Regions from separate parts of the Homo sapiens genome. Here region 1 is linked to region 2. Evidence: fine-mapped expression QTL. A gene starts in region 2. The other region holds a variant in brackets. All regions are shown on one strand. Distances are between the middles of the regions.

Region 1 (8,328 bases), 55 kb before region 2:
CCCAGGCTGGTCTCAAACTCCTGGATTCAAGCAATCCTCCCACCTCAGCCTCCCAAAGTACTGGGATTATAGGCTTAAGCCACCGCACCTAGCCCAAGAAGCAGGTTTTTGTTTGTTTTTGATACAGAGTCTTGCTGTTGTCACCCAGGCTGGAGTGCAATGGTGTGATCTTAGCTCACTGCAACCTCCACCTCCCAGGTTCAAGTGATTCTCCTGCCTCAGCCTCCTGGTAGCTGGAATTACAGGTGCCTGCCACTACTCCTGGCTAATTTTTTTTTTTTTTTTTTTTGAGACAGAGTCTCCGTCACCAGGCTGGAGTGCAGTGGCCCAATCTTGGCTCACTGCAACCTCCACTTCCTGGGTTCAAGCACTTCTCCTGCCTCAGCCTCCCGAGTAGCTGGGTATTTTTAATAAAGACGGGGTTTCACCATGTTGGCCAGGATGGTCTCGATCTCCTGACCTCGTGATCTGCCCACCTTGGCCTCCCAAAGTGCTGGGATTACAGGTGTGAGCCATCATGCCTGGCCTGTTTGTATTTTTAGTAGAGATGGGGTTTCACCACATTGGCCAGGCTCCTCTCAAACTCTTGACCTCAGGTGATCCACCCTCCTCAGGCTCCCAAAGTGTTGGGATTATAGGCATGAGCCACAGCGCCCAGCCTCGAGAAGCAGTTTTTAGCTCAAAACATTTCTGTTCAATATTTCTTTACCTCCTGATGAATAAATACCAGTGCAAGGACACCAATGCCGAGCACACCCCCTACATAGCCTCATACTGAGGTCTCTGGGCTGGGGTTTTAGTGCCTGCTCATATCCTTATCTCTCAAGCCAAAGCAACCCTTATGGCCCTAAATTCTCAAGAGCTTACCATTGAGGCTCTTATAGATTTAACACCCAATACAGGGCCAACTCTGGAAAGGCACAGTGGTTTTTTTTTTTTAGACAGGGTCTTGCTGTCATCCAGGCTAGAGTATAGTGGATGGATCATAGTTCAATGCAACCTCAACCTCCTGGGCTGAAGCCATCCTCCTGCCTGACCCTCCCCAGTAGCTATGACTACAAGTGTGCACCACCATGCCCAGCTAAGTTGATTTTTATTCTATAGAGATGGGGTCTTGCTATGTTGCCCAGGCTGGTCTTAAACTCCTGGTCTCAAGGGATCCTCCCACTTTGGCCTCTTAAAGTGCTAGGATTACAGATGTGAGTCACTGCACCTGGCCAGGCACACTGTTCTTTGATGAAGGTTTGGTAACAGCAAAATCCATGAAGTGGACAGGCTCTGGAGCCATACTGTCTTGGGTCAAATCCCTACTCCACCATTAATTAGCTTTGAGATCTTATTACTTGACTAGGTGCAGTGGCTCACGCCTGTAATCTCAGCACTTTGGGAGGCTCCAATTGAAGACTAGAGCTCAGATTGCCTCCATGAAAGTTAGAAGGGAGAGGGCTGGGTGCGGTGGCTCACAACTGTAATCCCAGCACTTTGGGAGGCTGAGGCCGATGGATCATGAGGCCAGGAGTTCGAGACCAGCCTGGCCAACATGGTGAAACCCCTTCTCTACTAAAGATACAAAAAATTAGCCGGGCATGGTGGTACATGCCAGTAGTCCCAGCTACTCAGGAGGCTGAGGCAGAATCGCTTGAACCTGGGAGGCAGAGGTTGCAGTGAGCCGAGATCGCGCCACTACACTCCAGGTTGTTAACAGAGCGAGACTGTGTCTCCAAAAAAAAAAAAAAAATTCAAATTAGAAAAAAAAATGCAGGCCAGGCGCGGTGGCTCACGCCTGTAATCCCAGCACTTTGGGAGGCCGAGGTGGGCGGATCATGAGGTCAGGAGATCAAGACCATCCTGGCTAACATGGTGAAACCCCGTCTTAACTAAAAAATAAAAAAAAAATTAGCCGGGCATGGTGGTGGGTGCCTGTAGTCCCAGCTACTCGGGAGGCTGAGGCAGGAGAATGGTGTGAACCCAGGAGGCGGAGCTTACAGTGAGCCGAGTTCACGCCACTGCACTCCAGCCTGGGCGACAGAGTGAGACTCCGTCTCAAAAAAAAAAAAAAAAAAAAAGAAAAGAAAAAAATACAAAAATTATCCAGGTGTGGTGGCAGATGCCTGTAGTCCCAGCTACTTGGGAAGCTGAGGTGAGAGGATTGCTTGAGCCTAGGAGGTGGAAGTTTCAGTGAGCTGAGATTGTACCACTGCACTCCAGCCTGGGCAACAAGTGAGACCCTGTCTCAAAAAAAAATAAAATAAAATAAAAAAGAGTTAATCCCTCTGTTCCTCAATTTCTTTATCTTCATAAAGAAATGCTCATAATAATGAATACCTCTTTCACAGGCTTGTGAAAATTAAATTAGTGTGTATTTATATAGGAGTTTATATATATATATATATATATATATATATATATATATATATATGAGTTTAGAGATAGCCTTGTATACAGTAAGCACCTGAAAAATGTTAGCTACTATTGTTATTCCTGAAAATAACATGAATCAAATCATATAGTCCCTATACAATGAGAGGATATTACAAGAAATCAGTGGGCTTATATTAGGCCAGGCGTGGTGGCTCACGCCTGTAATCCCAGCACTTTGGGAGGCCGATGTGGGTGGATCACGAGGTCAGGAGTTCAAGACTAGCCTGACCAACATGGTGAAACCCTGTCTCTACTAAAAATACAAAAATTAGCCAGGCGTGGTGGTGCATGCCTGTAATCCCAGCTACTCGGGAGGCTGAGGCAGGAGAATTGCTTGAACCCGGGAGGTGGAGGTTGCAGTGAGCTGAGATCGCGCCACTGCACTTCAGCCTGGTGACAGAGCAAGACTCTGTCTCAAATAAAATAAAATAAAATAAAAAATACCAAAAAATGTTGACTTGGGTGAAAATACAATTTTCCATGAGGAAGATAATTAAGCCTTAGTGTTTTGTTTTGCAACTCAGATTTTCCACTTAAGACTACTGACTAGTGGGCACATGTACATCAATCTCTATCTATGTTGGGACTTGGTTCTAGCCTTCTGGGGAGAATTATCAGGAAATGGAAATGACCCACTAGGGTAGGCAGTGAGTTAAGGACCTCTCCTCACACTTCGAAGAGGTGCTTCAAGCAGTTTTCTTTTCTGGCTACTAGGAATTCCTATAGGGGCACGTGTGTGGGTGGGGCAGAGGAGCAGCATCTTTCCTTTGGCCATCTCCACCTAACGTAGCAGCAGCTTTTCTCTTTCCCCTAGACCTTCTGGGCTTTGAGTTCAAGGGATTAGGGAGAAGGCCACAGAGACAGCTTCCTTTTTGACAGACAGGCAGTAGCTAGGAATGGAAGCTACAGACTTCAGCAGGATGGCTTGGAGAAAACAGCAGTGCCCTCTGCTGTGAAGCATGCATGTGACACTCTAGGGCAAGAGCATGTGCAAACCTTGTCAAATAAAAAAATTAAAAGCCAGTCCAACCACTCAGGCACGTGCATGGGCCGCCCTATGGCTACAACCCCCCTTCCCTCCCACTCACTTTAAAAAAGTGTCTCTGTTCCAGAGCCTGGGAAGAGGGTATGTTTGTCTCTGTTCTGTCTCAGCCTAGGCTGTAGAGGGCTTCGTCCTGTTCCGTCCTGGGCTATCAGTCCTACTAGGTTAATACCAGAGAATGACAATGTTCAGTCAGTTCTACTGCCACCCAAGACCAAGTAGTGCCACACCTTACTACAGATAAAGGCCTATTCATATTAAAAAGCTCCAAGAAAGGAAACCCTGGCATACTGCAGAAGAGTACAGTTAAAAAATCTTCCTGAAGTCTAATGGATCTTGCTTTGTTTTATTCCTATCTTCATATATCACAAATCTCTACTTCCAACCATCCTAAATCCTAAAACTTGTCTTTGTGAGACGTGAAATGGAGTGGAGAAAAGACTTAAAAGTCAAAACCCCCCTAAGGCTATAGATAGGGAACTTTTTTTTTTTTTTTTTGAGATGGAGTCTTGCTTTGACACCCAGGCCGGAGTGCAGTGAAAAATCTTGTTCACTGCAACATCTGC[C/T]TCCCAAGTTGAAGTGATTATCCTGCCTCAGTCTCCCGAATAGCTGGGATTACAGGCAGCCACCACGATGCCTGGCTAATTTTTGTATTTTTAGTATAGACGAGGTTTTGCCATGTTAGCCAGGGTGGTCTTGAACTCCTGACCTCAGGTGTTCCGCCAGCCTCAGCCTCCCAAAGTGCTGGGATTACAGGTGTGAGCCACTGCCAAGAGGGAACCTTTGAGCCCAGCTGAGATCTGTCATTTGCCTTAGAGAATGTCTAGATACCACATGCTGCTGAGTCTGTGGTGCACTTTTAGTAACGCATACCATGGAATGATCTAGGAAAGGAAAGCCCAGGACATTGCTGAAGAAAACTGTTTGAAAGGCTTACCTTAATTCCAGAGCATTGGTTCATTTTTTTTTTGAGATGGAGTCTTACTCTGTTGCCCAGGCTAGAGTGCAGTGGATTTTGGCTCACTGCAACCTCCACCTCCTGAGTTCATGCAATTCTCCTGCCTCAGCCACCCTAGTAGCTGGGATTACAGGTGTGTGCCACCATGCCTGGTTAATTTTTGTATTTTTTTTAGTAGAGATGGGGTTTCACCATGTTGGTCAGGCTGGTCTCGAACTTCTGACGTCAAGTGATCTGCCTGCCTTGGCCTCCCAAAGTGCTGGGATTACTGAGCACTGGTTCTTAAGCCTTACCATGTATTAGAATTAACTGAAAAGGGAGATTTTTAAAACCCAGATTTCTGTGCCCTAACCTCACAAGTTCTGATTTAAGAGGTCTGGGGTGAGGCCTGAACATCTGTATTTCAAACAAGTTCAGATGATGTTGATGATCTAGGGTCCAAACTTTGAGAATTACTGGTTGTTTGGTATTTGTTTTTTGAGACAGTCTCTCTCTGTTGCCCAGGCTGGAGTGCGGTGGCACGATCTCATTGCAACCTTCACCTCCTGAGTTCAAGCGATTCTCCTGCATCAGCTTCCTGAGTAGCTGGGACTACAGGCACACGCCACCATGCCTGGCTAATTTTTGTATTTTTAGTAGAGATAGGGTCTCACCATGTTGGCCTCGAACTCCTGACCTGAAGTGATCCACCCGCCTCGGCCTCCCAAAGTGCCAGGATTACAGGTGTGAGCCACGGCCTAAGAATTACTGGTTTAGAGAAAAGCATGTTGGCCTCAGCTATGAATAAAGATAGTATGTCTGAAGTAGTCTAACTTGGTGATCTCCTCTGTAGACAGATCTTCTAGGAGCAGGCTAGGCTCACAATCACACCTCTCATTCTGTAGTGTTTATTTTTCCATTTTTAAAAAAGAAAGAGGGGGAAACAAAGAAGGAAAATACAAAGAAAGAAGGTAGACAACGCTCTTGCATAGCCCGAAGCCCAGAGAGAAAGAGTTGGCTGGCTTGTGAGAAGACATGAGGAGTTGGGAAAAGGAATGCCAGAGTTCCCTGAACCAATACAAATCTCTATGCAACTCAAGGCTGCCTTATAGAGCCAGCTCCAGGACTCTGCCACCAGCTTTCAGCTCTGCTGAAACCTAATCCATTCCCAGGCCTGGATACAAGTTGGTAGCCTGTTGGTTTGCAGAGACATCTTTTAATAATCTTGGGTTTGGCCATCCAGAAGGCCTCTTTCTGCTCAGGGTTTCTGCAGTGTCTTTTGGTGACTTGTTAGCAGCCAGTGGCTGGAATGTTATCATGGGCTCATGTCCTTCACCAGAAGGGCAATCTGCTCCCGCAGCTGCCGCTCCCCTTCCTGCACTTTGCTCTGGCTTCGACACCTCAGCAACTCAGTCTTGTGGTCCTGATGATGCATAGGGCAGTAGCTCTGTGGTTCACACAGTTCCTGAAAGGTAAGGAACAGAGTAAGGGATTCTCTAGACTCCTGAACTCTACCTATGAAGGATAATAGAGATGCTGCTGCTGGCAGTGGCTAAGGAGGAGCAGCAGTTTCTTCTCTGAAGGCTTTGCAGGCCCTGGGAGTTGAGTTGTTAAAGTTTGGCTCCCCGCATGCCCCACCCTTTACCATATATTCTGGAAAGAAGTCTCTGTAGCCGCCTTTAAGGATATATAGCTCTGGGTAGTACAATGCAGGATACTGGTTCAGAGACCTGTCCTCTTCACGCAGACAGCGGCACCTTTAGAGAGAACCCAGAGATGGGTGGGGTGGAAAGAAACAAGGTCAGGATCCCAGGGGCCATTCACTGGGGAGGGGGGAGAGGAGTAGACTATTGCCAACCTCAAAAAGGACTTTCCAATCTCCCTGTGTTTGCAAAAAAAGGTCCAAGTAGTACCACCCTTCCTCCTTTCCTCCACTGCAGCCTCATTCTCAATCCCTTTTCCTTTATTGTTTCAAACTTTTCAATTTTAGAAACGTCTTCCTTCAACCTCCCTAACATTCTTCAAACTGTAGAATCCAGTCAGTCTCTGTCTGAACTGGTGTGGGAAGTCCAACTCAAAATCCATTTCCATCACCCGCCAGACCCCATTTAGACACTCACATTCGGGGGCCCCTCTCTGAGGAGAATTCACAGTGGAACACGATGATTATTCTCTTCTGGGTGTCCAAAGGGACGATGGGCTTCTTCAGAAAGAAGTTAAACAGTTCTTCCTGACTATATAAGTTTAAGGCTCCCTGTAGAAGAAGAATTTTAGTAAGTATTTCCTCAGGGGCTTATAGACAGTGCCAATACTTAGAAATGACTGAGACGCCAACCTGGGATAATGTGGACCAGAAAAGCTGGACTATAAGCACCTTTAGGGCAGGGGTCTAAGTATATCTCTGTATATACCCTGAACGCCTGGCATAGAGCTTGTAGATGGTCAATAAATGTTTATAGACCTGAACCACTGGAAGTATAGAGATCACTGCGAGGAATGTTCATGAATAGTAAGTGTTTGCAAAGTGCTTCAGTCCTTGGATTAATGTTTTTATTTCTAGGTAGGACCCCTTGGCTCCTACAGAAAAGAGGGAGATAGATCTAGGAGGGAAAGGGAAAGTAACCTGCTTAAGGTATACAGAATTAAAACAATGAGGACCTCAGCCTTGAGGTGCTTCAAATATGTAATCTTTGTCCTGACTCTAGAGTTCATAGACCCCTTTGTCCACAGACTCTTCTCAATAAAGAGTTATCTCCAGCCCTCCCCTACTAATGGCCACAATGTCGTCTCACCTGGATGTGTCCTCCCAGATACTCATATGGATAGCGACAATCAATGACATAAAACTTCTCAATCAGACCCTGGAACTTCCCCGACAGTAAGGCAGCCACCTGGACAGAAACAATGACTGAATATTCTGCTCACTGCCACTCTGAGGGAGAGAAGGGTCAATGACACAGTTCCTTACAAGCATACTCCTGTTCTGTCCACTGTATGTCCAGCCTCCAAAGTCACCCCATATTTGATATGTGGCAATGATTCAGCCCCACTCCACAAAAGAGAATGAAACAGGAAGTGGCCCTTTTAGAGAACCAAAATAGCTGGCACTGACAAGATACCAAGGAAAACCATATTCAGGCTACCCATCTGGGGATAGGCATGGCTGGACTCAGGAGATGCCCAAGGACTTCTGCAGTGGCAGAGGCAGCAGCTAGAGAGCTTGAAATTGCAGGAAGAAATGCAAAATGGTTCCCTACCCACCATCAAAAAGGAAGAAAGTAAGTCTTTCAGGAAAGGATATGGAAGGGAAAGGTTGATACCTAAAGGAAGGAAGAAACTGAAGCTACTTGTAGGAGTGCAAATTGGTTCAGCCTTTCTGAAGGGAACTTTGTAAATACATATACAAATAAATGTAATCACACTTTGACTCAGCAATTTCTAACATCTTAAGTAAACAGGAAAAGTACACAAAGATGTAGGCACAATTATATTCATCTCAGCATTGTTTTATATTATCAATATATTAGAAATAACTTCAATATTCAATAATAGGGGTTTGGTAAAATAAATTGTACATGTCAGTAGAATAGAGCGGCATTATATAGCCATTAAAATGATAATATAGATACCTTATTGATATAGAAAGATGTCTATAATGTCTCACTAAGCAAATTGCAATACTATACGTTCATCATGATCCTTTTTTTTTGTTTTTTGAGATGGAATTTCGCCCTTGTTGCCCAGGCTGGAGTACAATGGTGCCATCTTGGCTCACCGCAACCTCTGCCTCCCGGGTTCAAGCAATTCTCCTGCCTCAGCCTCCCGAGTAGCTGGGATTACAGGCATGCGCTACCACACCCAGCTAATTTTATATTTTTAGTAGAGACGGGGTTTCTCCATGTTGGTCAGACTCGTCTCGAACTCCCAA
Region 2 (8,328 bases):
TTTTGTATTTTTAGTTGAGACAGGGTTTCGCTGTGTTGGCCAGGCTGGTCTCAAACTCCTGACCTGAGGTAATCCACCCACCTCGGCCTCCCAAAGTGCTGGGATTACAGGTGTGAGCCACCATGCCCAGCCAACAAAACTCTTAAAAGCTCTACGTTTGTTAATGAGGTTGTTTTCCTAGCAAACATTTTCACTATCTCCTCATGATTCCAGCTGGCTTAGCTAATTGCAACATACTTAGCTAATTACATGTAAGTTTACATGCATACATACAAACTGTGAAATGGTAGAATTATTTTAAAGGGAAGTCAAATATTGTCTTTTATATCTTGATTTATGAGGGTGTTGGAATATATCTAAGTTATCCTTCCCAGAAGAAAGAATATTAGGGAGGTGGGAAGTTTGGTGTTTAATCTGATTTGAAGATTTACTTTTTCTGTTGGATTGAGGGCATTGATCCTATGTCATCCTTGGGGAATCCCTATCTAGGCTCCTGATTCACTGTGATAAGCAGTGAGCTGTGTTCCTTCACCTTGACCTCAGTCTGACTCATACATGTTGTTGCCAGGGCACAGTGACAGCCCGGGCTTCACCCTGAAACACCAAACAAGAACAGGAGGTACAGCCATCACTCCTGGGATGCCCAGATCAGGCAGTGGAGAAGAGCCCTGCATTCCTGGGATCCTCCCAGCCAGCCTCTGCAGGGCAGAGGGGCTGAGGGGTGTGTTTTCTATTCCTGGTTCTTTTTATGACTGGTAGGCTTAGCCCTACTTCTCCCCACTTTGCAGAGGTTTAGCTTTCACTGGGTGAAAAGGGAAGGTCTGAATCGAGTGCATGTTCCTCCAACTCGGCTGTTCCTTCCTAGGCAGGGAATGAAGAGTCTTAGAACCAATGGATTCCACTCCTTTGGATGACCTCCTGGATGACTGGCTCCAGGCCCTGGAGCCCTCAGAATATGGATGGAGAGTATCCTTTGCTGAAACCCACTGGAGCAGGGTCACAGATGGGGTTTGGCCCATGAGGGCATAATTAAGATGCAGTTCAAAGCAGTGGCTCAAGAACAAAAGACTAAAAAGGGGGCAGCAGGGAAAGAGCAGGACATGAGTAAAAAATCCTTGGGAACTAAAAGTGGAATAAGGAGATTTAATTATGGGTAGGAGTGTTGGGCTGCACTGGGAGGCCATTTTATAGATGACGAAAGGGGATGTAACCTTCCTTTGAAATGAGGCCTGAAACTTGACTTGCAGGGTTTTTTTTTTTGTTTTGTTTTTTTTGTTTTGTTTTGGGTCTCAGTTTCTTTCAATGTTTTGCAAATGAGCCAATGCCTACTTTTAACTCAACCATTTAATTCATAATAATTAAATTATTAATTTAATTAATAATAAAAAGGTGAACAGCTTAGTGGTGAAAAGCAAGGGCTTTTAGACTGCTTTTTGAGAGTACCTTTGCCTACCATGTGGGCAGTCACTTAACTTCTTGGGCTGTTTCATTTGTCAAAGAGAAGGTTTTGTTTCATTTGATGATTGTAAGAAAAAATGAGAATATATATCAAAGTATGTAGGTCAAGTGTGGTGGTTCACACCTGGAATCCCAGCACTTCGTTTTTTGTTCATTTGTTTTTTTTTTTTTTTGAGACAGAGTCTCATTCTGTTGCCCAGGCTGGAGTGCAGTGGCACAATCTCGGCTCACTGCAATCTCTGCCTCCCCGGTTCAAGCGATTCTCCTGCCTCAGCCTCCCGAGTAGCTGGGATTACAGATGGGCGCCACAATGCCCAGCTAATTTTTGTATTTTTTAGTAGAGACGGGGTTTCACTTTGTTGCCAGGCTGGTCTCGAACTCCTGACCTCAGGTGATCCGTCTGCCTCAGCCTCCCAAAGTGCTAGGATTACAGGTGTGAGACACCACGCCAATCCCAGCACTTTGTGAGGCCAAGATGGGAAGATTGTTTGAGGCCAGGAGTTTGAGACTACCCTGGGCAACATAGCAAGACGCCTCTCTCTACAAAAATAGAAATAAATATGCTGGGCATGGTGGCACACCCCTGTAGTTCTAGCTATTCAGGAGGCTGAGATGGAAAGGATTGCTTGAGCCCAGAAGTTCAAGGCTGCAGTGAGCTGTGATCGCCTCAGTGCACTCCAGCCTGAGCAACAGCAAGACCCTGTTTTTACAAAAAAAAAAAAATGTAGCATGGTGTCTGGTACATAAGAGCAATTATTGGAAACCATGTGTCCCCTACTTCATGGCCCCTAACTCTGCTCCTTTTGCCAAGGGGAAATAAGCAGTGCAAGGTAAATCTTTCCACCCCTATTTTCTCAGTTAGTACTGTACCTCATTTTTCCTCTACTCTTTTTCAGTTTGTAGACTTGGTGGCTCCTGCCTCCTCCCCTCCCTGGCTCAGTGAGGACGACCCCCGCCACTGGCTCTACTTTCCAGCTGATCACAGCTATTTACCTGTCCCAGTCTTGAGTAAGGCACAAAATATTTACAGAAAACAGATGTCTTTCAGAGGACTTGCTGCTAAGTGTAATAGTGAAGATTACTTGCATTACTGCTACTTTCCAATCAATTAAAAAAAAGAAATAGAAAACTTTGTATTACAAAGAGATCACAACACGAACGCATTGTTTAAAGCCTCTCCTTTATCCACTTTTTTGCTTGTCTCCCTAAACCATCTGTGATGCTAGCTGAGACTCGAATTTACATAAGAGCCAGAAACCATCAACCCAACCTCTTCACACACTAACGTCTACATTCAATCTCTTTAAAAAAGACTTAAATTTTGGCTCATGTGGGAGGTGGTGGTAGTGGTGGAGACTTAATAAAAGGTGGTTTTGTCTTCCTGAAGTGGAAATATAGCGCCGTCAACATCTTTTCCCCATCTGCCTGTTTCCTCCTTCCCTTTCTGTTTAAGGAAAGTCTAACCACCGCACTTCTCCCCACCTCCCCGCACCTCCCCCCAGGCAAACGCAAGCAACTGAACCGCCTATGATGTCATAATCACAATCCCATTACCTCATCCTGCTGGGGGGGAGGGGGCGGAGAGAGAAGAGAGGGAGTGAACAGCCCTGGGCTATCCTGAGCTTTACAAAGTGTTCTGGGTGAGGGCAAATTACAGAACCAAGTGGAAACGTCCCCGCAACCATTATAAGTCCTGGGTTTTTAAGGTTCAGGCCGATCCGGCAGCTGCAAGAGGGGCTCCTGGGACTCCGAGCAGGCCCTAATCCGCGCTTGGACCACACTTCCCAGCAGCCTTCACGCCGCGGACGGGTCCTTTGCTGGGGGAAGGGGGATTCCTTCGAAGAGGTGGTCGTGGAGGGCGGGGCAGCAGAGCAGGTGAGGGGCACTGTGGCTAATTGCGTGACGCGGCCCGAACCGAGTGGGAGGCTGCAGTTGGGCCGTTGGAGGGAGGGAGGGCAGGGGCGATGCCTTTGTTTACCTTCTTCCGACATGGCCTCCCCCGCGGGTTTCAAGATGTGCCTCCAACTGGGGCCGTCCACTTTCTGCGATATTTTGGAGGGGGTGACTCGTTAGTGAGGAAACCACCCCCATCCCTAAATCAAAGCGCCAGGCTCGTTCCCAACAGCGCTGTCCGAGAGACACTTTGAGAGAGACACGACACGGAGCTGCGCCCTCCATGGGTGGCTTGGGGGGATTCTGCGAGCCGGAGCTGTCCCCCTACTCTCCTCAGGGACTCGTTGGTTCGCGCCAGCGCCTTTTAAGGGCACCGTGGGGCGAACCGAGCGCTCAGAGCTGCTCCGGCCGCGGCCCTGGGAGCTGGAGGAACCGCGGTAGGTGGTGGAGGGCAGGTGGCGCTGGGGCCTCGGGGCGGGCACCTCAACCGTCCCTCCCTCCTTCCCTCTTTCCCCTCCCCCAGCCCGACCGCCCGCGCGGCCGGGCCTCGCTGGCCGCCTCTGCGGGGAGAGCACGGGACCCGGTGGGGGAGGGGGTGGCGGAGTGCTAAGTCCCAGACCCTCCCCATCCCCTGCGTCCTGAGTTCGCTTCCCGCGGCCAGATGATGGAACCTAGTGGGAAGAGGCGAACGACAGCCCCCCTGAGCGAGCCCTGGCGCACCCCCCCCCCCGCCCCGGGGACCAGCGGACGCCCCATGCCCCACCCCGCGGGGACAGGCAGGGCAACAGAGGGAGAGGTTGAAGATTGGAGGGGCCTAGCCTTTTGCTTCTTCATGGGGGTGGGGGGAGGGGTGTTCCCCACTTGTCACCCCTTTCCCCACCAGAACCATATGGAAGAAGAGCAGGCAGATCTCCACCTACCTGTTCATGCAGCTCCCTGCCTTCCTCATGTTTTTCTTCAGTCTCCCCAGGAGGTGTGGGGCTGGGACCTGAGGGGAAGGTCCCCAAAGGGTTTGTGACTCTCCTCCCTGTTGGCCTGACCTGATCCTACCTTGTCTTGGTACAGCACAACCTCAGCATCCCTGAAACAGGAGTGTCAGGGGTTACTGCCATCCAATAGGAGATGGGGTGGGGGTCTGATCTTTATTTTTGGGGGCTGCTGGTGGAGGGAAAGCCTGGACTGAGAGTTAGGTCTGGTGGGGTTGCTGAGAGGGCCTAGCGGCCTGCTGCTCTGTGAAGGGCTGAGCCCCGTGCCAGTTGTTAAACTGAGAAGTTTTAACTTGTTTAGTGAATATTCAGGGCTGTCTCTACCCTTCAGATACACAAAATGGAAGGGGAAGGAAGGCGGCAAGAGAGGGCTTCTTACACTTTTTTCAATGCCTGCTTGAGAAAGAGGAGGCCCCTCGCGGAGCTGGTTTGCCTTCTTTTGTGTCCTGGTTTGATTCCTTATGGCTTCCGTTCTGTTCCCCCTCGCAGCCTGGCCTGTTTTAGGAAACTCAGGCTGAGAGTATCAGTTGCGTGGTGGTAGTTGCATTGTTCCAATTACCACTGTGTGTGGCCACATCCCAACAATTAAAATGCAGAAAAACACAAATTCACTGTCTTGACTTGATCCTAGAGGTGGCTGGGAGTTTGCTGTTTGTCCAAATGCCTCATGAAAAGCTGGAGAGTTTGCTTCATTCCCTGCTCCTCATAGCTGGTTAGCCTGAGGCCTGGGGTCTCTAGGGTAAAATCCTGCACTTAGGTTCCCTCTCTGGTTGATCTTTGAGGGCAGCAGAGTTAAGAAACCAAGAGCAGAAGTGATATAAGCTTTAGCTTCTCCCGTAAGAATATAGGGGAAGCAGCTGAAGAGAGCTCCCCGGAAGCTAGAATTTTGTTCAGGGTGGTAATAATTATGCATGAAAATGATAGTTAACTGTAATGATGATTGACTTCTCTTGCACCTTTCTTCCAGAGAACTCCAGGTACATCCAGGTTTATCTCTTTGCTCTTCCTTGTGCCCTCCTTCTAAGGTGTGAGTGGGGTAGAGATAATTCCTCTTTTTTGTAGAGTGATCTGCCCCCAAGGTCACAGAAGGAAGAGCCCTCTTGGGCTTTTCTTAGTGTGCAGGTGAGGGAGGATGGTATTCAGCCAGAGAGATGGACCCTATTGCCTTCTTCATCTTATTGATTTCATTACTTCTGACATTCTGAGGCCTTGAAGATTCACAAACGGGAACGAGAAATGGTAGTCTGTGTGGACTCCTGATTTTTATAGGTCAGATGGTACATTTTGTACATTTTAATATGTTATATTGTTCCTGTGACAGGTTAAGATTATTCTGCCCACTTTACATATGGGTAAACTGAGGCCAAGGAGTATTAAATGATTTGTCAAAACTCTTAGCAAATTGGATTAATAATTAGATTTCTTGATGATTTGTTCTCTTGACTAGCTAATGCTACACACATTCTCTGGTAAGCTGTCAGCTTGCTGCTCATTTCCGGGAATAGATAGAACAAAATCAAGACACTGGCTTAACCTCCCCTTTTCCCTTGAGCAAGGCCCCTCAGGTAATTGTGTGGGCTTGAAGCCTGTTATCTGATACAGTTAGTTTGCTTCTATCAGAAGTTGACCACGAGAAAGAATCTTGGTTAACTGTATCCATGGACTTTGCATCAGATGAGGCTAAAAACTTAGTTGAACAGTCATGGAGTTGTTGTTTACGACGTCTGTAGAGTTGAAATGTATTGGAATTACCCTGACCATTTCTTTATCTTCCCATTTGATAAGAAAACAAACACTGTATCTATTGGAAAACAATAATATATCAGATGTTTAGGCTGTGGGAGGACATAAAATCCTATGTACTCAGGTCTAAAGCAGAAAGTCTTGCCTACAACCACTGTTCTTCCTTGTTCTCTTATTACTATTTCTGTAGTTTAGGAGAAGGGTACCTCTTTTCACTTCTGACTGGAAGATAAAATACTGGGCTGATCTTGATGGAAATAATCATTTGGGCATCCCTCTCTCTCACTTGAGCAGCTGTTTTCTAAGTGGTGCTGGTATTCCAGTTAGAAACAACAGAGCATGAACCAGTTTAAGGGTAGCAAATAAGTTTCAACTTGATTGCCAACTCTATTTTATTTCATATCTGGACTGCCAAGTTCATAATTTCTGAAGCTGTGTTTAGGCTTAGCTGGAAAGAGCTGTGATCAATTGATGTCTGCCAGAGGCCTGGCTTAGGGGTGCTGTGGTATGTGTGCCATGCATTTTCCATCTCTGGACCAGGTGCATCTCTAATATCACTTGGGGCTGGTCCCTCTAATTGGCAGACTCAGCAGGCATGACTGGAGAGGGAAGTCCCAATGGTGCTAGAATGGTGCTGCAGTGGCAGAAGACGGCTCACAAGTGAGGTCTGGAAGAACAACAGGGAAGACATCCATCATTTGCTCCAAAGTGTGCAAGTCAAATCCTGGGGAGAATCATGATAACCCTGATCACTGAGCAGCTACAGAAGCAGACTCTGGATGAGCTGAAATGCACACGCTTCAGCATCAGTCTGGTAAAAGACCAGTCTTCCTGCTTCTCCACGACCCCCTCCCCCTTTTTTCTGAGGCTGATTGTTGCTATTACTTTACTCTTGTCCTGTGCTGTATGAATCATGGTACTTAACCTGGAAGAGCCCACTAATGGCTCAAAACCCAGCCCAAAAGGAAGGGGGCAGGGATTTTTCCACCGATAGAGAAGGGACAGCAAAACTTGGGTGGAGAAGGGTTTGAGATGTTGGAAGATGTGGATTGTTTGACTTACTAACTTTGGGAAGACAAGAGGAAGAACACTTAATGTCCCTAACATCCCTGTAGCTCATGAATCGCAGAGGAGAACTGAAGAGGGCTTCCTAGAAATCTGTCAGTGTGTCCTGAATCCAAATCATGATGGATATTCTCTCTTTCTTAGCCTTTGCCTGATCATGCAGACATCTCCAACTGTGGGAACTCTTTCCAGCTTGTGTCTGGTAAGGCATCGTGTGTGTTTGTGTACGTGTGTGTACCCATTCCTCTCTCCACACATTTCTATCATTGGTTTCCAGTGACCAGGGCTAGCGAGCCTACCTCTAGAACCTTCTTGCCAGGGTCAACTTCTGAGATTGACAGTTGTCTTTCATGTTCTAGCATGAAAGTTATCTGGTTGGTTTGCTCTTATTCTAGCTTTGTGGGGACTTGTATAATCTAATTTTTTGAATAGGTAATACATTCACATGGTTCAAAATTTAAAAAATAACAACAAAAAGGTTATGCTGAGAAAAGTCTCTCTTACTCTCCCGTTCCCTATCTACCCAGCTTCTACCACCTCCCTAAAAGTATTAGTTTCTTATACAGTATATGTGACTAGAATTTCTTTATATAAAAAGAAGCAAATGTATATATTTATTTCCTTTCTTTTTTAAGTTCTCGGATACATGTGCAGAACGTGCAGGTTCGTTACATAGGTGTACATGTGCCATGGTGGTTAGCTGCATCTATTTTATTTCCACGTTTTTAACACAAAAGGTTGCATACTATATATTATTTTGTACCTTTAAAAAAAAAAATGGGACCGGGCCTAGTGGGTCACACCTATAATCCCAGCACTTTGGGAGGCCAAGGTGGGCAGATCACCTGAGGTCGGGAGTTCAAGACCAGCCTGACCAACATGGAGAAACCCCATCTCTACTAAAAATATAAAATTAGCCAGGCGTCGTGGCGCATGCCTGTAATCCCAGCTACTCGGGAGGCTGAGGCAGGAGAATCACTTGAACCCAGGAGGTAGAGGTTGCGGTGAGCCAAGATTGCGCCATTGCACTCTAGCCTGGGCAACAAGAGCAAAACTCTGTCTCAAAAAAAAAAAAAAATTGCTGGGCACAGTGGCTCATGCCTGTAATCCTAGCACTTTGGGAGGCCGAGGTGGGCGGATCATGAGGTCAGGAGTTCGAGACCAGCCTGGCCAACACAGTGAA

Evidence for each region. PIP is the estimated chance that this variant, and not a neighbour inherited with it, causes the effect.
Region 1: its variant is the best candidate, but not a certain one, in a credible set for the expression of FAM53C in whole blood (TOPMed, PIP 0.58).

The regions. Positions count from the first base shown.
Region 1 is chr5:138,279,977-138,288,304 of GRCh38, forward strand. CDC25C (cell division cycle 25C) reads right to left here. Exons shown (of 14, transcript NM_001790.5): 11 at 7,193-7,291; 12 at 6,521-6,654; 13 at 6,046-6,157; 14 at 5,293-5,865. The coding sequence ends at 5,716. Among named protein-coding and RNA genes, the nearest start is that of GFRA3, 9.5 kb to the left of the region's middle. The variant C/T (reference allele first, on the strand shown) is at 4,030.
Region 2 is chr5:138,334,520-138,342,847 of GRCh38, forward strand. It overlaps FAM53C (family with sequence similarity 53 member C), which reads left to right and starts at 3,747. Exons shown (of 5, transcript NM_016605.3): 1 at 3,747-3,788; 2 at 6,665-6,894; 3 at 7,290-7,347. The coding sequence starts at 6,817. It overlaps LOC100128966 (a long non-coding RNA gene), which reads left to right. Exons shown (of 4, transcript NR_146628.1): 3 at 866-966; 4 at 2,355-2,627. It also overlaps a transcript of CDC25C not described here. RefSeq lists enhancers at 2,897-2,976, 3,147-3,626 and silencers at 3,707-4,056, 4,107-4,196.